Regions from separate parts of the Homo sapiens genome. Here all the other regions are reported to be linked to region 1. The links are microRNA targets in miRTarBase. Many come from high-throughput screens and were not tested one by one. Region 1 holds a microRNA gene; each other region holds the end of a gene's coding sequence.
Evidence for each region. Region 1 holds the annotated microRNA hsa-miR-6888-3p (AUCUGUCUCGAUUGUUUCCAG, at 1,810-1,830, opposite strand). A microRNA usually pairs through its seed, bases 2 to 8, with sites in the 3' UTR of a target mRNA and lowers its output. Matches are read on the target gene's strand: a 7mer-m8 pairs with bases 2 to 8, a 7mer-A1 pairs with bases 2 to 7 and ends in A, and an 8mer does both.

Region 2: the mRNA of CLPB is a reported target of hsa-miR-6888-3p. Seed matches in the 3' UTR shown: 7mer-m8 at 1,452-1,458.
Region 3: the mRNA of GLIPR1L2 is a reported target of hsa-miR-6888-3p. Seed matches in the 3' UTR shown: 8mer at 567-574.
Region 4: the mRNA of FAXC is a reported target of hsa-miR-6888-3p. The part of its 3' UTR that is shown has no 7-base or 8-base seed match.
Region 5: the mRNA of SYTL4 is a reported target of hsa-miR-6888-3p. Seed matches in the 3' UTR shown: 7mer-m8 at 1,682-1,688.
Region 6: miRTarBase lists UBE2W as a target of hsa-miR-6888-3p. Seed matches in the 3' UTR shown: 8mer at 653-660.
Region 7: miRTarBase lists IL17RB as a target of hsa-miR-6888-3p. The part of its 3' UTR that is shown has no 7-base or 8-base seed match.

Annotation. Positions count from the first base shown.
Region 1 is chr2:159,185,628-159,188,710 of GRCh38, reverse strand. It overlaps MIR6888 (microRNA 6888), which reads right to left and starts at 1,876; the gene lies at 1,810-1,876. It overlaps TANC1 (tetratricopeptide repeat, ankyrin repeat and coiled-coil containing 1), which reads right to left. Exons shown (of 27, transcript NM_033394.3): 15 at 2,812-2,920; 16 at 1,687-1,809. RefSeq lists a cis regulatory region at 3,024 and an enhancer at 2,940-3,083.
Region 2 is chr11:72,290,584-72,293,656 of GRCh38, forward strand. It overlaps CLPB (ClpB family mitochondrial disaggregase), which reads right to left. Exons shown (of 16, transcript NM_001258392.3): 16 at 1-3,032. The coding sequence ends at 2,784. Among named protein-coding and RNA genes, the nearest start is that of PHOX2A, 48 kb to the left of the region's middle.
Region 3 is chr12:75,430,657-75,433,739 of GRCh38, forward strand. It overlaps GLIPR1L2 (GLIPR1 like 2), which reads left to right. Exons shown (of 6, transcript NM_001270396.2): 5 at 59-85; 6 at 168-2,032. The coding sequence ends at 505. Among named protein-coding and RNA genes, the nearest start is that of GLIPR1L2, 41 kb to the left of the region's middle.
Region 4 is chr6:99,278,611-99,281,693 of GRCh38, reverse strand. FAXC (failed axon connections homolog, metaxin like GST domain containing) reads left to right here. Exons shown (of 6, transcript NM_032511.4): 6 at 241-3,083. The coding sequence ends at 530. Among named protein-coding and RNA genes, the nearest start is that of FAXC, 70 kb to the left of the region's middle.
Region 5 is chrX:100,673,572-100,676,651 of GRCh38, reverse strand. It overlaps SYTL4 (synaptotagmin like 4), which reads left to right. Exons shown (of 20, transcript NM_001370165.1): 20 at 476-2,161. The coding sequence ends at 624. It overlaps SRPX2 (sushi repeat containing protein X-linked 2), which reads right to left. Exons shown (of 11, transcript NM_014467.3): 11 at 864-3,080. Among named protein-coding and RNA genes, the nearest start is that of SRPX2, 31 kb to the right of the region's middle.
Region 6 is chr8:73,791,533-73,794,602 of GRCh38, forward strand. UBE2W (ubiquitin conjugating enzyme E2 W) reads right to left here. Exons shown (of 6, transcript NM_018299.6): 6 at 1-2,583. The coding sequence ends at 2,570. Among named protein-coding and RNA genes, the nearest start is that of STAU2, 46 kb to the left of the region's middle.
Region 7 is chr3:53,865,037-53,868,115 of GRCh38, forward strand. It overlaps IL17RB (interleukin 17 receptor B), which reads left to right. Exons shown (of 11, transcript NM_018725.4): 11 at 1-758. The coding sequence ends at 272. It overlaps ACTR8 (actin related protein 8), which reads right to left. Exons shown (of 13, transcript NM_022899.5): 13 at 2,030-3,079. Among named protein-coding and RNA genes, the nearest start is that of ACTR8, 16 kb to the right of the region's middle.

The sequences.
Region 1 (3,083 bases):
CTAAGTACACTGGAAGCTCACACAAGCACAATTGTTTTAAAATGTGTCCTTCCTGACTATGATGTAGGATATGACTGGATCTCCCGGCCAAGGGAAGTTGGGCCAAAGGCCACACCTAGCTCCTGTTCTCCTCTCCTTTCTGTTGTCAGCTGAGAAAAGAACTGCAACCTAAATCCTCCTGAGGCCACAGCTTGCGGCTGGCCACCAGTCCTATGAGATGGTACAACAAAACCACTGGCTGGATGGGACTCCAGTGGGCCAGCGGGGCCCAGGCTGGCCCCATCCTGGCCTGGCCACAGGAGACAACATGGTTAGAGACTGCTGGCATGCCACTGCAACTAAAATCCATCTACCAAGTAATCATCCCAGAGCAAGTCACTTTAATTTACCAAAGTGGCAAACTGCAATTATTGTTCAAAATGACATTCATTCCTGTATGACAACATTTAATACACTCTAAAAAAAGTTCCTTAATTGCATGCATAATTTAAAATTACTGTAATTTGTTCAAGATCCTGTGAAAACCGTTTTCCCCCCTTGAAAGATAAAAGAAACAGAAGGATAATGAAAAGACTTAAGATTCTATAACCACATTATAGAAATAATTTCGGAGATGGTGTAGATGTAGGTGACACTGGAGTTTTACAAAACAAAGTAAAAATGATTAACTCTTAAAATCGCACATACGTTAAAGAGCAAAGTTTATAATCTCAGGAGGGCCATGCTCATTACACTATTATGCAGTACCTTTAAATTTACTGTCTTAAAAACTTGTACTCAACAGATGTTTCCCATTTACTTATTTCCATATTAAAATAAATTCTATGCCCAGAAATTCATTAACATATGAAAACATATTGCCATTTTTATTCTCATCTTTCTTATGATTATAGAATTTTATTAGTTATGGAGAAGCCGAGAGATACACTCTTAGCTGAAATGAAAGATGAAACAATGTGAGTGATTCGGGGGGAAGACCTGGCTCCCTAAACTGACCCAGGGCTTCCACAGGCAGCCGGGTACATCAGGGCCTGAAGCTGAAAGGCCTGGACACTGTCTCTGTGGCCTTAACAGGCTGCTTGGCCTCTGTGTGCTTCAGATTCCCAGGCTACATGAAATCAGGAAGAAAAATCTACCTTAAAAAGCTGAGTGGAACATCATGACATGAAAGCCACTGACCAAGAAGTGAAGAAGCTCTTGGCTCCACAGAAGGCCATGCTGATACCCTTTCCATAGGCAGAAATATGGATACATGAAACCTCGATGTTTGTTTTTCTGTGTACTTATCTCTATGCATCACCCATCCATGCTTAATTTCCCATGAACTCTGAAGAGATGGTCCAGATTAGTAACGCAGGACACTTAAAAAATCCGTTTTCCCTAGAAATCTCTCTGATCTTTGATTTCTTTTGTAAATTGCTTCCTTATCACATCTGCTGTGAAACAGTCACCACATGTGCTCAGAGCAGCCCTGACCACCCACATCTTCCTGCCAAAGAAAAGCTAAACTTCTGGAAGAACGAGTAATACAGCACCCAAGCCCGTGTGATCAGGGAAGCACATCTTTAGAAGCTCCTCTGCGTCCTCTCACCACCACCCAGGGCAGAGGGAAACAGGGCTGTTGGAGGAACGGCCAGCAGCCGGCCAGGGCTGGGTCTCCGGCTCTCTGTGCAGAAGGTTGCTCACCTTCACGTTGGGAGTATAGAGATTCCTGAGAGAGGCCAGGGCGGCGGACAGCCCCTCGGTGCTGTAGCCGATCCACAGGGCTTGGAGATGGCTTGAAGAAATTCCCGTCTTCTTACTGAGGCCCTGGAAACAATCGAGACAGATCTTGGAAACAATCAGAGACAGATCTGCCTGAGCATCTCCTTCCCACCTGCAGGGTCACTCTGAAAGTGGGTCTGCCGCAGAGGGTGCAGATACCTGCAGAAGGCACGGGGTCACACACAAAGAATGCCTGGACATGCGAGCTTTCACTACCTGAAACCAAGGGTCAAGGAACCAGCCTGCCTTCACTAGGTTAACTTTGTGCCTTGGGAGAGAGATGGCAGATGAGAGTTTCTCTTTGAGTCAGAGTCTTGCTGTGTCGCCCAGGCTGGAAGTGCAGTGGTGCAATCTCAACTCACTTCAACCTCCACCTCCCAGGCTCAAGTGATTCTCATCCCTCAGCCTCTCAAGTACCTGGGATTACAGATACATGCCACCACTCCCAGCTAATTTTTGTATTTTTAGTAGAGACAAGGTTTTACCATGTTGGAAGTAAATTAGAGGAAGAATAAATGACAGAATTAGAATATCACCATCTGAGCCCTGCAAGGTGGAGCGTGCCTATAGTCCCAGTTACTTGGGAGGCTGAGGCGGGAGGATGGCTTGAGTCCAGTAAGCTATGATCCCACCACTGCTCTCCAGCCTGGGCAAACACAGTCAGAAAGTCCAGGTGGTACAAAATCACACAGGTCAAGAAACTCAGGTTCTCGAACAAATCAATAATAAGGAAACAAAAAGTAATGAACAAAGTGGAACCTTTAGATAAAAAGAAACTTATCAGAGATTTAAAGGTGGAAAGAAGTAAAACTTAAGCACAGCACTCTGATATACACTTGAGCAATCAACTATAGCAAAATGCAAGGAAATGCCCAGGCTGAGTCAGAACAGCGGTTACTTTTGGAGAGGGGAGGCAGGAGGAGGTTGCATTTGGGCTGAGGTGCATGGAGCGTTTCTTGGATGGCTGACAGAGCTGTCTAAAATCTCCAAAGCAAAACCTCAAAATGACAACAAAGAAACCCTTCCCCAAGTTGGTGTGCATCTCACCTTGAAAATGTGCGCCTTCAGGATGTGGTGGCCAAGCTCCATGGTCTGCTGGCGGTTCAACTTGCCCTCCTGACGCGAGAACATGAATGCCAAGAGCGCGTGCCCGTTCCTAGGGGAAGGAATACAAAGGCTCACAGCAGAAGAGCCCATTCCACCACACCGCAGACCCACCCTCAATTCACCACCCATTGCCTTAGTCACTGATTTATGCCCGTGACAAAGATGTAAACTCCGGGAGGCTAAGGGTCTCATCTGAGTCATAATGCCTAGCA
Region 2 (3,073 bases), not on the chromosome of region 1:
AGGGAAAATTCCTAATTTTACAGTGGAGAAACCTGGCACACACCACCTTAGCCATGTGATCAAAGTTACCACCACCTAGTCTAGGTGTGGTGGCTCATGCCTGTAATCTCAGCACTTTGGGAGGCCGAGGTGGGTGGATCACCTGAGGTCAGGAGTTCAAGACCAGCCTGGCCAACATGGCGAAAACCTGTCTCTACTAAAAATACAAAAATTAGCTGGGTGTGGTGGTGGGCACCTGCAATCCCAGCTACTCAGGAGGCTGAGGCAGGAGAATCACTTTGAACCCAGGAGGCAGAGGTTGCAGTGAGCCGAGATTGCGCCACTGCACTCCATCCTGGGTGACAGAGCGGGACTCCGTCTCAAAAAAAAAAAAAAAACCAAAACAAAAAGTTACCACCACCCTCCGCTAGGAGGCACTAAGAATAGCACAGTATCACTTCTGTGGTTGTCTTGGCAAAAATGCAGATCCTCAATCATATCATGTAAAAACATTAAACAAACTAAAACTGGGGAATATTCTATAAAATAACTGGCCTGGACTCTTCCAAAGTGTCAAGGTCATGAAAGATAAAGACCAAGAAACTGTCACAGGCTGACAGAGATGAAGGAAACACCACAACAAAATGCAATATGGGACCCTGGACCAGACAAAGGACATCATCGGGAAAACTGGCAAAATTTGAATGTCCGTAGATTAGTTAGTAGTAGTTTATCAATGTTAACTTCCTGGTTTTCTTTTTTTGAGACGGAGTCTCACTCTGTCGCCCAGGCTGGAGTGCAGTGGCGTGATTTCAGCTCACTGCAACCTCCGCCTCCTGGGCTCAAGTGATTCTCCTGCCTCAGCCTCCCAAGTAGCTGGGATTACAGGTGGGCACCAGCGGGCCTGGCTAATTTTTGTATTTTTAGTACAGACAGGGTTTCACCATGTTGGCCAGGCTGGTCTCGAACTCCTGACCTCAGGTAATCTGCCTGCCTCAGCCTCCCAAAGTGCTGGAATTACAGGCATGAGCCACCACACCCGGCAATTTCCTGGTTTTGATAAACTACAGTATGGCTTTGTAGGATGTAATCATTGGGAGATGCTAGATGAAAGATACATGGGAATTTTCTACTATTTCTGCAACTTTCTCTAAGTCTAAAATTATTTCAAAACAAAAAGTAAAAAACAATGAAAAGCAGGCCGGGTCCAGTGGCTCATGCCTGTAATCCCAGCACTTTGGGAGGCCGAGGCAGGCAGATCACAAGGTCAGGAGATTGAGACCATCCTGGCTAACATGGTGAAACCCTGTCTCTACTAAAAATACAAAAAGGTAGCCGGGCGTGGTGGTGGGCACCTGTAGTCCCAGCTACTCGGGAGGCTGAGGCAGGAGAATGGCGTGAACCTGGGAGGCAGGGCTTGCAGTGAGCCGAGATCGCGCCACTGCACTCCAGCTTGGGGGACAGAGTGAGACTCTGTCTCAAAAAAAAAAAAAAAAAAAAAAAGGCAGTCAGTGAGGTAGGGAGCAGCAGCCCCTGAGGGGTAGACAGTGATCCAAGCATCTGCTGGAGCTCACACCCTGGATTCTGACTGCCTCATACCCACCATACTGTTAGGACATGCTTCCATTACCCAAGGGACTTTGATTCCTGGCCCCATTCTCTGCTTCCTGAAAGACTAGCTAACACTACGCGAGGGTTCCATGAAGGGCCTGTGGGGGAAGGTGGGTGGACTGCTTATCAGCAGTGGCTACTGTAGATGGTGCCCAAGGATGCACCAGGCCTTACTGTGCCTGGCTAAGGTGGGCTTGAAACATTGGCTGGTCTGTGAAATGCCCTTGGGGGACGGTGTCCAGACCCTCTGCTTTGTGACTAACATGCAGACTGAATAAACTGCATGTTTATTCCAGGCTCGTTTAGCTGGACGAGCAGTACAGACAGGGCTGAGGCTGACTCCATGGCCATGTGGGCAGAGGTCAAACCCATGATCTCTCTTCCTACAGCTTCCTAATGTCTGCGATGTTGGTCTTTTGAAGGAGGCCCCCACAGAGCTGAGCTTGCTTGGTTATCTGGGACTGCTGCTCAGTCTGAGTAGGGGAGGGTAATGAACCAGTCAGGCCTCCTCCTGGAGGTGCCCAACACTGGCCTAGTCCCCAAGGCTGACGAAACATGGTCTGGCCTGACCCCAGGACGTGGGGTGAGGAGGAACACTGGGCATAATATAGTAGCGGAAACAGGCAAGCCTCTATGGGTCCCTTCCCCTTAGAATTTTAGGGTAGGGAACGAGGAGGCTACAGACTAAATTGCAGAACTATCTGCACCTGGGCCTCTGAGCTCTTCCTCCACTCCCAGTGGAGCCATTCTGGGGACTGAGTTGCATGAGGACTAGCAGAGGGTGGCAGTTCAGTCTGGTCCCTGTCTTCTTCCAGCCAGCTGTGTTCTTAGCTGCCATACTTCTGAGCTTCCTGGGAACATGAGAAAGTCTGGCGACTATGGGGGATGGGGATCATTCTGAAGGAAATAAGGGACCTCCATCCCTCCTTGCCTTGAAGGGGGTGGAAAGGCAGCTCCTCTCCTGAAGGCTTGTTAGCAGGTTATGGGCCCACAACAAAGGGGCCAGAGTAGGGCGAAATTCCTCCTTCAGGTTTTGGGGCTGAGAAGGGGTCTTCATGGGCTGTGAGGAGGTAAGCAGGCCTGAGACTGGGTAGAGATGGGAGCGGCATGAGGGGAAGGTAAGTCAGTTGCCATGCCACAGCCAAGGGGCCTTTATTGGATGGTGAGGGCACATAGGAGCAGGCAGGTGGCTGCTAGATGGTGTTGCACACCTTCTCAGGGTGCAGTGGTGCCCGGATGTCCAGTCTGCGAGTCTTGCTGTCCTTGTCGATGATCTCCAGACGCAGCTTGGGGAGGCGCTTCTCAGCCTGGGGTGAGGGCAGTTCTGGGCTTTTGAGTAGCTGCTTGTCTGAGTCCTCCACCGTGATGCGCAAAGTACAGCCCCCTGGCAGCAGGTCCTGCTCATAGGCTGCTGCCAGCTGGTTCACCACACGGCGTTCTACCTGTCGGTGGGGAGGTGAAGTGGTCACTCCCTCGGCCTGGA
Region 3 (3,083 bases), not on the chromosome of region 1:
TTTTTTAGACAAAGAAGAAATTTTATGTAATTTTTGTGGACTTTCTTTTTCTTTCTAGGTAATGCAGATCGTGACCAAGCCACATGTATGTATTGTTGTCCTTTATTTCTTGAACAATTGAACTGCTTTATATGAAATCCAGCTTTCAATTGCTTCTTTGTTTACAGATTACCGATTTTGGTATCCAAAATGGGAAATGCCCCGGCCAGTTGTGTGTGATCCACTGTGCACATTCATTTTATTATTGAGAATATTATGTTTTATCCTGTGTGTCATAACTGTTTTGATAGTACAGTCTCAGTTTCCAAATATCTTGTTGGAACAACAAATGATATTTACCCCTGAGGAATCTGAAGCAGGGAATGAAGAGGAGGAAAAAGAGGAAGAGAAGAAAGAGAAAGAGGAAATGGAAATGGAAATAATGGAAATGGAGGAGGAAAAAGAAGAGAGAGAGGAGGAGGAGGAGGAAACACAAAAAGAAAAGATGGAGGAAGAGGAAAAATAAGAGTAGAAAGAGGAGGAAAAAGATGTATCACCAATATAAACCAAAAGTGTAATACAAAAAAAGACAGAAAAAAAAAAAAAGTAAAACACTGAGTTTTAACAAGAAAGAAAATATGCAAACCACCATTGGAATGTTTTTTATTCCCTTCTCTCCTATACTTATTCAATCAATTTAAATTTGTAAAACAAAGAAACAAAAAACATGTAAGGTGGGCTCTTTGACACTAAGAACAGATAAAGACATGACAGGAAAAACACTGAAAAACATTTGACCAGTCTAATTAATCTTAAGATTTCACCATGTTATTCTAATAAAGTAGGGAATTTTCATTTTCTAAACATGTTTCCATCTCTGTGTTTTAAATAGTAAGGTGCTTAAGATCATTCCAAGTTCATAACAACCATTGAATAAAATTTGTATTTTTTTGTTTTTACTGTTACTGTCATAGTTTTTATTGGTGGTAGTGGTATTTTCATGTGATATTAAGGTATCTAATATTATTATTTGTCTTTGTGGTTTTTGGAATAGTTTAAGTGGTACCTGTACATCCTGCTAGGATGCAAACTTATTATTTATAATTAATGTTCAATATTTCATTAAAGACTTGCTGTAATTTTCTGCCACCAAGGGCTAATAAATGCCATAATTTTAATTAGTTGTGGTAGAGGAATCTGGGTGCTTCCAAATTTATATGATAAAATAAATAAATTTTTTAAAAACTATTAACTTGTTATTCAATAGGTATAGTAAAAGTTAACAGATTAATAAGATAACTGCTTACCACTAGTAATACTAATAAATGAACTAAATAAAAATACCTAGCATAGGAGATTTCTTTATCTATAAAATAAATGGATAGCACTAGATGACCACTAAGACCTCTTCCATCAATGAATATTCATGGATCAACTTTGTAAAGGAATCAATAGTAGTTGTGAAGTACACTAAGCAAACACCTGAGGGAAAAACTTGATTCCCATGAAAATATTCCTGAACTCAGCACCTTATATGGCAAAATAATAAATACCTTTTATTACTCAATTTTAAAATAGGCAAAAAGCAATGTATAATATTTTTCCAATTGCCATTCCATACTCAGCTGTCTTATTGTTGCACACTTATTAGAACTCAATGTGACTGAGATGTGAAAGGTTGATATAATTCTATTTATGACAGGGACTTAGGGAACTTATTCTAATTGAGAATCAGAGGCTTAATAAACCTGAAGGTTTAAGTGAAAGAAATGACATTGAAAGAATCACTGCATATCTGATGTTTTCAAATAAAACAATCTCTGTTTTCTGGTTTTGATAGAATATTGTGTTCTAAAGCTATATTTCTCAATGTGTGGTTCCACTGAGGGAAAGAAAAAAAAAAAAACCTAGCATAGCCAAATACCTCAAATGGTATAAATGCTATGTGTATTTACTCTGTTGTTCTTTAGTTGTATCAATATTCTGTTAAAAACCTGTTCGAAGTAGGGCAAGATGAGAATTATATTAAAAAGCCCTGAGCTATCCTCTTGGATTTGAATGTTTCTGTTTGGTTTGTTTCCTTTGCTTTGTTTTTTTTTTCAAAGAGCTCCTGTTTGTAGAAATTAGATATTTTTCTATCTATGAAGTCAGCCTCTGTTCCACCAGTCCCCTGAGAAAAAGCCTTAGGTAGAGAAAAGGGCTAGTTCTCTACAGTGACGTTATTTATTATTATTATTGTACATTTGTGTTGTATTTCATAGCTTCCAAAGTCCTTTCATGTAAGTATTTGATATTCAAAACCATTCCTGTGGAGCTGGCATTGCTTCTATTTTTAAAATAAGAAAACTGACCTTGGATTTGTGAACATTTGATGCATTTACAAGTACAATTTCTTCATTTATTAATTCCCACACATGACTAACTTGTTATGTATCTGTATGCCTAACAGAACCTGGGCCTGGCCCAGGAAACCATTTTCTCCTAGGCCTCCAGGCCTGTGATGGGAGGGGCTCTGGTGAAAACTCTTGACACAGACTGGAGACATTTTCCCCATTGTCTTGGAGATTAACATTCATCTCCTCATTACTTATGCAAGTTTCTGCAGCCAGCTTCAATTTCTCCTCAGAAGATAGGTTTTTCTTTCTATCACGTTGACAGGCTGCAAATTTTCCAAACTTTTATGCTCTGTTTCTTTCATAAAACAACCCAAGTCACCTCTTGAAAGCTTTACTGCTTAGAAATTTCTTCCTCCATGTGAGAAATGGGAGTTCTTTTTCAAAGATTATAAAAAGTCACAATTTCTTACTATAAGATTGCTATATATATATAGTGGATTATATATATATATATAGTGGATTATATATATATAGTGGATTATTTATATATATATATATATAATGGATTTTATATATATATATAATGGATTATATATATATATTCCAAATCAGCTGTCCTAGCTTGCTCCGGCATGCCTGGACAGAAGTAGACAAGCCCCAGCCCATAGTGCATGCCACTCCTTATTTGGAGATGCTTCCTTAAGTATCCCTGGGCAACTTCCTTTTCTTTCTTTGTTCTATTCCCCTTACCTAATTAAGAAAGTTTTA
Region 4 (3,083 bases), not on the chromosome of region 1:
CTGTGTCCTCACATGGTAAAAGGGGGAAGGCAGCTCTCTCAGGCCTCTGTTATGAGGTACTAGTACCACGAATGAGGGCTTGGGCCTCATGAACGAACCACCTCTTAAAGGCCCCACCTCCTTAGACCATCACATTGGGAGTCAGGATTTCAACATTGGAGTTTTGGGGCAACACAGACCATAGAAGTGGTAGACTGCTGCCTTTGAGAACTAATCCTTGCTTTCCTTACCACACTGCAGGTGAGCTGATCAACCTTGCCATGTACTGTGAGAGGATAAGGAGGAAATTTTGGCCAGAGTGGCACCACGATGATGACAATACCATCTATGAGTCTGAGGAGAGCAGCGAAGGCAGCAAAACCCACACCCCGCTGCTGGATTTTAGCTTTTACTCAAGGACAGAGACCTTTGAAGATGAGGGAGCAGAAAACAGTTTTTCCAGAACCCCAGACACAGATTTTACTGGACACTCACTCTTTGATTCGGATGTGGACATGGATGACTATACAGACCACGAACAGTGCAAGTGACGTCCAGCCTCACTGACCCTCTTCCTTGGGACCTGCCACTCCCTGGGTCGGTCCATTTTCCCAGGTAGCAATCCATCCGAGCTGGGAGGAGATCTTCGTGCTTGGCAGAGTTTTCACATGCTAACTGGACTATAGCAGCCTTATTTCTTTTTTGTACAAACAAAACACAGAACCATTCAGATGACTCCATTGAAAACAAACAGGCAAAAAATAATGTCAGCATGGTTCCTGAAATCCATTTTTGTTTTCATTAGAAAACTATTAATAATATTGTGTGGTAGAGCAGGTGTAAGAGCTGGTTGTCAGCTGATAGTTTTTATGATGATCCTCTTCAACCCTGAGGTCTTAATTGTGAGATGGATTCTTGAACCTCCTTCCTCCACCAGGATTTGAAGTAATGAGAGATATCATCAGAAAAATGTTTTACGGTGGCTGCTTGTACTTTATGTGTGTATATTGTATGTTGAGACATAAGTCAAATAAAATCCACAGATATTAAACGAACACCTACTATGTGCAAAGCACTGTGCTAGGTGCTAATCAGTATACATTTTATTCTAAGCCCTGCCAGTGACTAGCTGTGTGATTTTGAGCAAATCTCTTATTAACTATTGGGTGCCTCATTTCTCCCACCTGTAAAGTGGGGATGACAATACTCTCCACCTACCTACCTCACAGGGGTGTTGTGGGGATTCATGTGGTAACATTCGTACGGCGCTTTAAACCTCTTAGAAGTGGTGCGACATAAACACAGCATTTTATTCTTTATTGCACTTCATGCATGTGAAGATTTGAGGGCAAAGGAATTCCATATCCAGGCAACCACCACCACAGTCACCTGCAAAAGCTGAGCAGATGAAATACACACAAAGGTACACTTAGGACTTTGTCATGATTCCTTTCTGTAATCTTGGCTGAATCAAAATCTTTTGTTCAAAGAACATTGGAAATGTTTTTACAAATTATCGACAGCTACAAACAGTCTTCAATTCTACCATGTATTTGCAGAAAAGTGGTTCTTTCATTGCCTGAACTCACCCTGGCATGTTCTGTGTTGACTCCAGAGTGTTACGTTGCCTATGTTTGATTTATTTGAGAAGAATAAATCTCAGGTATATGGCAGGTTTCATAGAGTTGAAGGGAAAGTATTTCATTGATTTTTATAAGCAGAAGCCTGCCAACTTGTAATGTCTTTTTGAAAACAAACCTTGCAAAGATGTATTGAAAAGATGAAGTAGCAAGAGGATACTTGTATCAAAGCACTCTGTGCAGTGTTAGACTATATGCAGTTTTATTAATGCAACTTTTCTGGTGTTTTCAGCCACTGCCCAGTGAGAGGAGAGCAATGCTGAGAACAAGTCTTAATGTTTTTGCTGTCTCATCCCCGTTCTCTCTCTCTTTCCCTATAGTATTCGATGAACTGTTGGCTTACCCATATTTGTGAAGGCACCCTATTTCTAAAGATGAAGTTGTTGTTGTTGTTGTTGTTTTGACTTAGGACATTTTCCAGGGAAATATGGGGCAGAGATCCTGGGTGATGGCTGTGAGATTTGGGCTAGGAGAGCCAAGATTTACAATTGCAAACAAAACTGCTTTGCTTCTGACCAACATAAGGATTGCTCATTATGGGGTTAAAGAGGCACTTCTTAAAATACAGCAACTTCTGAGAAATCCATGCACTTTACTTGAAAAAAAAAAAACCTCTTTTTGAATATAGCATTTGCAAAACAATCTTAAAAGACTGCTGTAGATTCACAAAGAGGTAAAGGGAGGAGAGTTTTTCAGACTGCTTACCACTTAAGCAATTGTGTAGGGCATATGTAACTGGGAATACGTGCTGAGATACCCTAAGTTAGAAATTCTTATTCCATGGGAAACTTAGTTGTTAATATCTTATTAAAACCATTCTTATTTAAAGGGACTGTTTGATGCCTAATAAGAATGTGGTGGAGAAGATATGAATGGATAAGCCTGTTTGAGGCTGCAGCATCATTTGGGAGGACTGTTTGCCTCCCCTCTCTCTAGCAAGTGTGTTTTAAGGCCAACTGGTGGCATTTCTGTGTGACTAGGGAGACTCCTGGACTGAAAATATGAATATAATGAACAGGTGGACTGCAGACCTGTCTCCACAAAGCATGGGTTGTCCTTTTCCCACCACATTTTAGTAGAAAAGAAATGTATTTGAATTTTTTTCTATGAACAATCTATCTTACTGTACAGTACCAAGTGTGATGTATTTTCTCTCAAAGGATGATTAAGTTATGAGAATGTAGATTAATATATGTTTTTAATTTTATATTACTTGGAATACAAGTATGTGGAGAACCAACTTTGAAAATGAAGTTGTAAAATAAGTCATTCCATCCAGGTACCTCTTACAGGGGCATGAATGGACATTGCTATCTGGAGTCTTGGGCAATTGCCTGACAGCATATAACTGGGCATCAACATTTTGTAGGTGTTAATTTGATTTAGAGCCCTAGAATATGCCCCTGCTTTACTTTCCCAAGGCGGGTTATGCAAACAAAATAACCAAGACAAAGTCACCATAGT
Region 5 (3,080 bases), not on the chromosome of region 1:
TTAGCTGGGCGTGGTGGCGCAGGCCTGTAGTCCCAGGTACTCTGGAGGCTGAGGCGGGAGAATCGCTTGAACCCAGGAAGCAGAAGTTGCAGTGAGCCAAGATTGTGCCACTGCACTCCAGCCTGGCGACAGAGCGAGGCTCCGTCTCAAATTAATAATAATAATAAAAGAAAAATGTTTAAGTACAGTTGGCAATAGCTCTGGCATGAGTTGTCAGGCACTAGAACTCTGTAACAGCCTCAGAATAAGAAGTCTCTAGTGACTGTGTGCCATTTGGAGTCTGATTTCATCAACCCAGAGTCTCTTGACAGAGTCTCAGGAATACAGGTGAGGGAGCACTTCCCAGACTGCTGTGGCCATTAGCCCATCTTCGTAGGAAACTGTTATGGGGTGGCTAATCTTGCTGTACAACCCATCTTCCCTGGTGGGCTGAGAGTGGGGCCCCTCTTTAGCCTCTTCTGGTGTTTCTCCTCAGGGATCAGTAATGGGGAAGTGGTGGACTGGATGGACTCGACTGGGGAAGAAGTGAGCCTGTGGCAGAAGATGCGACAGTACCCAGGGTCTTGGGCAGAAGGGACTCTGCAGCTCCGTTCCTCAATGGCCAAGCAGAAGCTGGGTTTATGAGTCCCTGTCCTCTTCTGCAGGTCCAGCCCTGGCGAGGGCAGGTCAGAGGAAGTGAAGAAATCAAGAGCAAAGATTTATAATTTAATGTGTATGTGTGTATGTGTGTATGTGTGTGTGTGTGTGTGTGTGTGTATGTGTACAAACATGTATTTTCTGCAAATCTCATTATGCTGGCTAGAGTGATGCAGACTTGTTCTTCTTTTTAAAGCAGTCTCAAGAATAAGCATTTCTTTAAAATGTTTCTGTGTATAATCTAGTTTATTTTCAGAGTCCATTTTTTCTTATGTCTTTATAAGGTTCACTTAACTTAAAAACAGCTTTTAAAACAACTTTTTATCTTCTGTCTTGCTATCATTGTTCCTACTTCCCTAGGAAGCCCTGGCTACCTTTCGCATTAGGACCAGTCTGGGTTTTAAGGCTCTGGGAAGCAGGGTTGGTTAGTAAAGACAGGAATGTTGGGGAGAGGTGAGTAGTTCCTTCCTCTTTCTCCTCTCCAATTTATGCTTTTAACTTATTTTCTACCTGGATAAACTTCTGGAACTTGGCTTTTAAATTTAACTTTTCTAGTTTTTAAGCAGTTTCCACCTTGCTTTGGTCTAATGCTTTTCTTTGAAATGCTAACAGAATTCCCAAGCTTTTTCCAGTTCTAGATATCTTTACTAGACCTTTGGGGGACTCTTATAATGGAGCTGCTTTTGAAAAGCACTTTAATTAGATAATGTATTTTGACTAAATCACGAGGATGCCCAGTGAGAGCTTCTAGCTGATCTCAGAGGACCAGAGTGACTGAGGGTAAAGTGTCTCACAGCCCATGCTGAATTTTCTGCATTTTAAACTGATACTGCAGTCATTGGAGAGAGAGCTCCTCATTTCTCGAATGAAAGATGAGATATATTCATCCTCATGTACCACATCTGTCTTAGTGTTTGCGTCTGGGGTGTGTTATCAAACAGAGCATGGTCTACATCCCACTGTGTCAACCAGAAGAGCCAAGTGTTATCTCAATTGGCCCAGTGTTTCTCCAGGCTGGGGACTGTTAAGGGCTCTAAGGGAATGTAGACAGAGTCTCCCTGTTATTCTGACTTCCTGCTTGATGAGCTTTCAGTTCCTGTTTTTGCTATTGTTTCCTAAATTTGACCTACATATTACATGGGTGTAGTGTGTTGAGGCTTTTCAAAGAAGGGTCTAGTGAGCTAAGTTTCATCTTCTGGTACTCATTGATCAAACTGACCTTTCTATTCTCATAAGCGTTTCTACCCAAAGTTGTGTGTGGAAGGAGTGTATAGCAGAGAGGAAATCCCTTTCAACAGAGTCAGCTGCTAACTGATTTCCTATAAGCACACTGGATTAAGGGCAGCCACAGTGGTTTCTACTGTATGTATGAACCGAATGGAGGAATGTTTTCAAAGATTGATTTGGTGTGGATTGCAATTGTAATGGAAGGCATAACTTGGGATCCCGGGCTGTAACTTGCTCTTTTGTTTCCCACCCCCCTGACATGTATGTGTGCTTTAATAAAGCTTTCTCACTTGTCAAACGTTTGTGTTTGTTAGTTCTATAAATGCTTTTGTCTCTGATGTCCTCACTGTTGCTTTTCCCCTGGCTTGAAGGATAAGAACCAAAGTGATAAATGCTCTTCCCTAACCATCCTATGCTGATTGAAGAAAATTCACCTTTCCCCGCATTGCTGCCTGATACCTTAAATGCCTGATACTTTCGCTGAGCTTGATCCCTCGTCCTTTGTATTTGGTATCTAAGGAGAACACTGAGAAATCATCTTTAAAGTGGCACCACTTTTCTATCTTGTAACAAAGGAACTCTTCCTTTAGCTTTGCAGACCCTCCTATACTGGAGGAAGGAGAGAGATGTTCATACAGGAGGTGAGGGGAGACATTCCCTGCTATAAGCACTTCTTTCTGGATCCTTCAATTTCTCTGGGAGGCGGGGACTTTTTCTTTTACTCCTCCTACCATTATGTAGTTTTGAGAGAGAAATAACACAGGTGCCAAGTAACCCAGCTCAGAAATAAGGCTCTTGATTTCTAGGTAGAACCCAAGCAATTCTTGACCTCTTGTGCAAAAGGGCATTAATATATATCAAATGCTTTTTATGTGCAAGGCTTCATATACTATTTCTTTAATTTCTCCAACCACTTTATGAAGTAGGAAATCTTCCCTTTTTACAGATGAGGAAACTCAAGCCTACTGTCACGTGACAGAGTTGGGCTTTGAATCAAAGTCTGACTCTACTGCACCATGTGGCCTCCTGTGAGAATGGTATGTGTGTTATGGGTGAAGGGTCAAAGGAAGACGTGACTCATCTCTTCTAAAATATCTTAAATAAGTTCAATTTACAAAAAGTAGGACAATCAGAATGCTTTGGATATTACCTAGCCAACTTAGTGACTGTACTGCTTGTGAGTGAGTGTGTGTGTATGTGAGAGAGAGAGAGACAGA
Region 6 (3,070 bases), not on the chromosome of region 1:
GTTGTCTTTCAACAATGCATTACAGAGAAATATTCTTTTTATTATTACAAGCCATTAATTGCTCTCTGTAGAGCAATGACTCAGATAAATGCCTTATGACTTTTAATAATGTAACTAACATATAAATTAAATCTAAGTGCAAGGAGTTTTCAATGATTCCTAAATTCAAGAGAGTGTTGTTAGCCTGATTATGAATTTTAAATGTCTGTGCTCCTATATTTTAGGATATTTCATCTTATTTTCTACTCTTTAAACCATAAGATGTACCGAAATTATTTCATTTTCCTCTACTTTCCTCTGTGTCATTTTAGTTTACTTTATGGTATTTATATGTAGAGAGAGAGGTATGTTAAAATATTGTCATAAAAAACTCAATTGAGGCTATATATGACCTATTACTCTATAGTATAGCATTGTTAATCTTTGACTCAGTATATTAATTCCTTTGGTGAATAAATGTCACCGGTCATTTCTTTATAAAAGCATTTTGGTAAGAGAACCAGCAATATGGAGACAGATTTCTCCCTAACCCCCAGAAGAAGATCAAGTCAAACAGTAGTGTAGAGCAGTTACGCAAAATATGAAAATACATAATTTACAGCTGCAATTTTCATATTAAAAGCAGTTTAAAACTATGAGTAATTCAAAGACTTTCTGTCTTGGTTAAACAGGCCAACTAATAAAACTGACAGAGATCATTGTGAGAATTTATCTAGTCAAGATAGAACAAAAACGGTTATAATTTTTTAAAAGTGGTAATTGTTAACTAGCAGTATATAAACAGTGTCCACAATTTGGTGGCTGGCCACGGTTTTAATTTTTTTTTTCAAGTTATTTCTATAGCAGACATATTTTTGAAGTCTACCCACCCCTGAGTTCAGCAATTATACTTTGAGTGTAAAATTATATGCCCTTAATTAACAACATGTACAAAGCTACAAAATGTCATCTATACAGATTAAAAACAATTTTAAAATATTATTTACCAATTATTGATTGAATGGTTTTACTGGGGTACGTATTTCAAACCTTTCAGCCAACTGGCTTTCAGTTTTAAGCCCAAATTGATTCATATATTCACTGCAGGATATTTCAAAAAGAGTGCAACAATAAGGCATTAGTAAAAATAACATTGTAGTAGAAACAGATTTTGCATATGTGAAAAGGTAATTTATAAAATACATTAATCACTTTTTAAAAAGAACTTAGTTGTAGTATCATTAACTCACATGGTACTGAGAACTGGACCTTTCAACAATTTTTTTTTTCTATAGAAAGTTTCATCTAGCTGTAAGCAAAGTCTTTTCAACAACAACAAAACAAAACCCTCCAGGAAAAACTATATGGCTGTGTGAGACAAATAAGCAACCATTTGATAGTGACTTTTGCCTAAATTTTAAAATAAAAATGTCCACACTCTTTTGTTAAAACATTAAGCCTCTGTCAAAAATGTATTTCTTATTTTAGGGTACAGGATTAAAGGACAAGATGATACTCACAAGTAAAGAAAATTTACAAGAAAAAACTTAACAAAAGTTTCAATAAAAGTATTGTAACATTCAAACTTGACTTATAACAAAAGAAACAAGATTGCAAACAAAAATGTTTACGGGGTTTCCAAACATAAATAAATGAAATAGTGTTTAGGCAGTAGGGCTCATGCTGATGGCTAGCAGGAAGTTAACAGAGTGTAACTTACTTGGAAAAAATCTTTAATGTACAAATAACAAGCCCAAATTATGGACTGCAGCAATTTAATCATCACTGCCATTTTTCTTACTTCCAAAATAAAGCCTTGATTAAACCATTCATACCCTATATTACTCATACCTTTACTTCAGAGATTGAGGAACTATATACAACAAATTAATTTATTTTCACCATAGGGATAACATACTGTACCTCTCTGCCAATGTTACTTGAAAATCTTCCATGTCAAAACAACTTGACAGTAGATATAAACAATTCAATAAATATGCAATGATCTTTCATTACAGTCCTTTAAAGACGCATGTTAATTCATGCTGTTAACCTTAGGATCACAGTGCATAGAATCCAAATATAAACAGTTGGGGTGACTTTTAAAGTAATGTTGGATCCCTCACTTTATTTATATTCCCACTATAACCAGTAAGTTCATTTCATAGGCCCTATCATGCATTAATCATTGAATGGCAGGAGTTAATGAAAACTTTTCCTGTTACAACGCCCATTGCCGGCAATGAACGTACCAAAACCGCCAAGGAAGTCATTGTTATTGCACAATACATGAGGACCTGGAGCTTTTCCAAAAGCTTAAAAAAATAAAAATAAAAAATGGAATTATATTTGACATTTCCTGACACCTGCATTAATACTGTATGACTAATAAAAGCATGTCAGTTGCCTGGACTGAACCAGCGATCAACATGCGCCCAGAATGCACACGAGTAAAAATGCAGTAAAAGGAAGTAGTCTTCATTGCCTATAGGTCACTTCCAGTCAAAGGTTAAAGTTCAAAGACTGAATGATCAAAGTGCTCATTTTCTCAGTAGGACTATCTTCTGCTAGGAGGATGATAACAGTGGCATCAACAAGTATCATCTTTAAGAAAAGGAGAAAAAAGATAATTAAAAAGTCAAGCATGTATAAGTAAATTCTACAAGTCTGTTTAATGTAGAAATAATTTCAATTAGCAAGAAGTACATAGTTTACATGTCTGATCTGCCTCCCCCAAACCTGTGAATACAAAGTGCAATATATGTTCAATTATACAGTGACAAATTTTTATTCTTTCAGAGAAATAGTTCACATAAACCTTAAAATGATATGTTATTAGCACATTCTATTTAAAATAATAAACTGACATGACATGTTAGTACATAGTCAGGATGTATCAATCTTAAGAGAATTATTTTATGGGCAACAAGTTCACATTGTAATGAGACAGAAGTAAACTCCTGATCAACAGTGCCATGCTATTTAACACAGAATAATACACAATTTGTCTTTAGACTGTGAAGGAAGTAACTGTTCTTTACCAATGAGATACAATCTCCAAATCAATAAACAGTTAAGATTAATTTCCCTT
Region 7 (3,079 bases), not on the chromosome of region 1:
GCAGTCCCAGTGAGAACTCTCAAGACCTCTTCCCCCTTGCCTTTAACCTTTTCTGCAGTGATCTAAGAAGCCAGATTCATCTGCACAAATACGTGGTGGTCTACTTTAGAGAGATTGATACAAAAGACGATTACAATGCTCTCAGTGTCTGCCCCAAGTACCACCTCATGAAGGATGCCACTGCTTTCTGTGCAGAACTTCTCCATGTCAAGCAGCAGGTGTCAGCAGGAAAAAGATCACAAGCCTGCCACGATGGCTGCTGCTCCTTGTAGCCCACCCATGAGAAGCAAGAGACCTTAAAGGCTTCCTATCCCACCAATTACAGGGAAAAAACGTGTGATGATCCTGAAGCTTACTATGCAGCCTACAAACAGCCTTAGTAATTAAAACATTTTATACCAATAAAATTTTCAAATATTGCTAACTAATGTAGCATTAACTAACGATTGGAAACTACATTTACAACTTCAAAGCTGTTTTATACATAGAAATCAATTACAGTTTTAATTGAAAACTATAACCATTTTGATAATGCAACAATAAAGCATCTTCAGCCAAACATCTAGTCTTCCATAGACCATGCATTGCAGTGTACCCAGAACTGTTTAGCTAATATTCTATGTTTAATTAATGAATACTAACTCTAAGAACCCCTCACTGATTCACTCAATAGCATCTTAAGTGAAAAACCTTCTATTACATGCAAAAAATCATTGTTTTTAAGATAACAAAAGTAGGGAATAAACAAGCTGAACCCACTTTTACTGGACCAAATGATCTATTATATGTGTAACCACTTGTATGATTTGGTATTTGCATAAGACCTTCCCTCTACAAACTAGATTCATATCTTGATTCTTGTACAGGTGCCTTTTAACATGAACAACAAAATACCCACAAACTTGTCTACTTTTGCCTAAAGTTACCTATTAGAGGTCACTGTCAGAGTTCTCAGTTTCTTAGTTACTATTTAACTTTTCATGTTCAAAATGAAAATAATTCTTAAGTTGAAAGCCCTCTTGAAGTAACCTTTTTATAAATGAGTTATTATAATGGTTTACTTAAATAAAAAACAGGGGTGGGTGCAGTGGCTCATGCCTCCAATCCCAGCACTTTGGCAAGGCCAAGGCAAAAGGATCGCTCAAGACCAGGCTACGTCACAAAGCGAGACCTCCATCTCTACAAAAGATTTAAAAAATTAGCTGAGTGTGATGGTGTAAGCCTGTGGTCCCAGCTACTAGGGAGGCTGAGATGGGAGGATCACTTGAGCCCTGGAGGTCAAGGGTGCAGTAAACGGTGATTGTGCCACTGCACTCCATCCTGGGTGAGAGCAGACCCTGTCTAAAACAAACAAACGAAAAAACCCCCACAGAATGACAGAACATAAAAGATGCACATTTTGTCTTCCAACTTTTTACTCTTCTAAAAGCATCTTTTTTAAATTTTTTAAATTTTTTTTTTTTGAGACAGAGTTTCACTCTGTCACCCAGGCTGGAGTGCAGTGGCGTGACCTCGGCTCACTACAACCTCTGCCTTCCGGGTTCACGCCATTCTCCTGCCTCAGCCTCCTGAGTAGCTGGGACTACAGGCACCCACCACCACACCCAGCTAACTTTTTATATTTTTAGTAGAGACGGGGTTTCACCCTGTTAGCCAGGATGGTCTTGATCTCCTGACCTCATGATCCACCCACCTCAGCCTCTCAAAGTGCAGGGATTACAGGTGTGAGCCACGGCGCCTGGCCTAAAAGCATCTTTTTCTTTAATGCAGAGGTTATGTTGTATTATTAGCATAAATGTTTTTTTTCTGGGAATGCTTATTTCACACAGCACAATACTGAATCTTCTCTGGAATGTGGATCGATTTCAGATGGATGACTATTAAAATGTGTATATTTGCAGATTATCCTTAAAGGGCCACCTCATGCCTTCTAATTTATGTCTTACGGATAAAAAATCAAAATGAAGCATAAAGTAAAAACTGTGTCCAGCTTTACAAGTGGACGCTTAGTAATGGCTGAGGCAATATGTTTAATGTAGCAAATTTTACTTATTTGTCATGATCAGTTTTCACAGTGCTTGTAAGTGCTGGTAATAGAAGATGGACATGGTTTAGGTCAAAACTTGGACCAGAAACCAACTTCCTTTGAAACAGCTCTACCAGTTATAAGAGCAATATGCTGTTAGGTGAAGAACTGTTTAACAGAAATATATTATGTTTTTGCAAACAGGCAGCTGATCCAAAATTGTGTTGAAACACCTCAGAAACATAAATGACATCAATACTCTATAAATTAATGCTGTTAACAAATTTAAAAAATAAAACATACAATTTTCAAATTGAAGGCACACATCCCAGTTGGTACTGGCAAGTTTAAATTGTTTCTAATACTGGTGGACTCTTCATTTGTAACCTACTGAGCAGTTACAGAGGGTACTCCCATTGATACAAAATGCTCAGGTACCGGCATTTCTCCACATCCAGAGTTCTTTCTATATTCCCTTCTGATTTCCATCACTTATCTGTTCCCTGCTTTTGTCCTTCCCCAGTCTCACCCCCATCTCTAGCCATGGTAAGTGAGATGGCGGAAGCAGGTGCCTAGAAGCAAGCAGCAGGAAGCAGCATTTTCCCACTCCTCCCAGAGCTCTGGGCTCCCAGACTGTGTTCCTACCTCTGGACAATGCTTTCTCTTCCTCCTGGGCTCAGAGGGCTTCACCAGAGCCTGGACCACCAGTGGTAATAGCTGCATTATTTAGATTTTGCTTCAGGATGCTCAGAGGTTAAGGTTAACTGATCATACTGAACATCATGAACTCCAAAAGCTTTCACTTAATCCTTCAGGTAAAGGAAAATTGAGGCTTGATGACTAAGTTGGTAGTATTAATAACTACATCAGTCACCATATCTGTACAACACAAGGACTCTTAAATTATACCCAAATCATTTCTATTTGGCTTTAGGAAAAAAACAAGATTTCCTTTTCAGCATTTGTTCTGTTTTGGCCAAATAAAAATTGTTTTCTTTCTTCCTCTAAGCTCACCCTACGGCATGTCAGGTAACAAAAGCCAGTCTGCCCAGC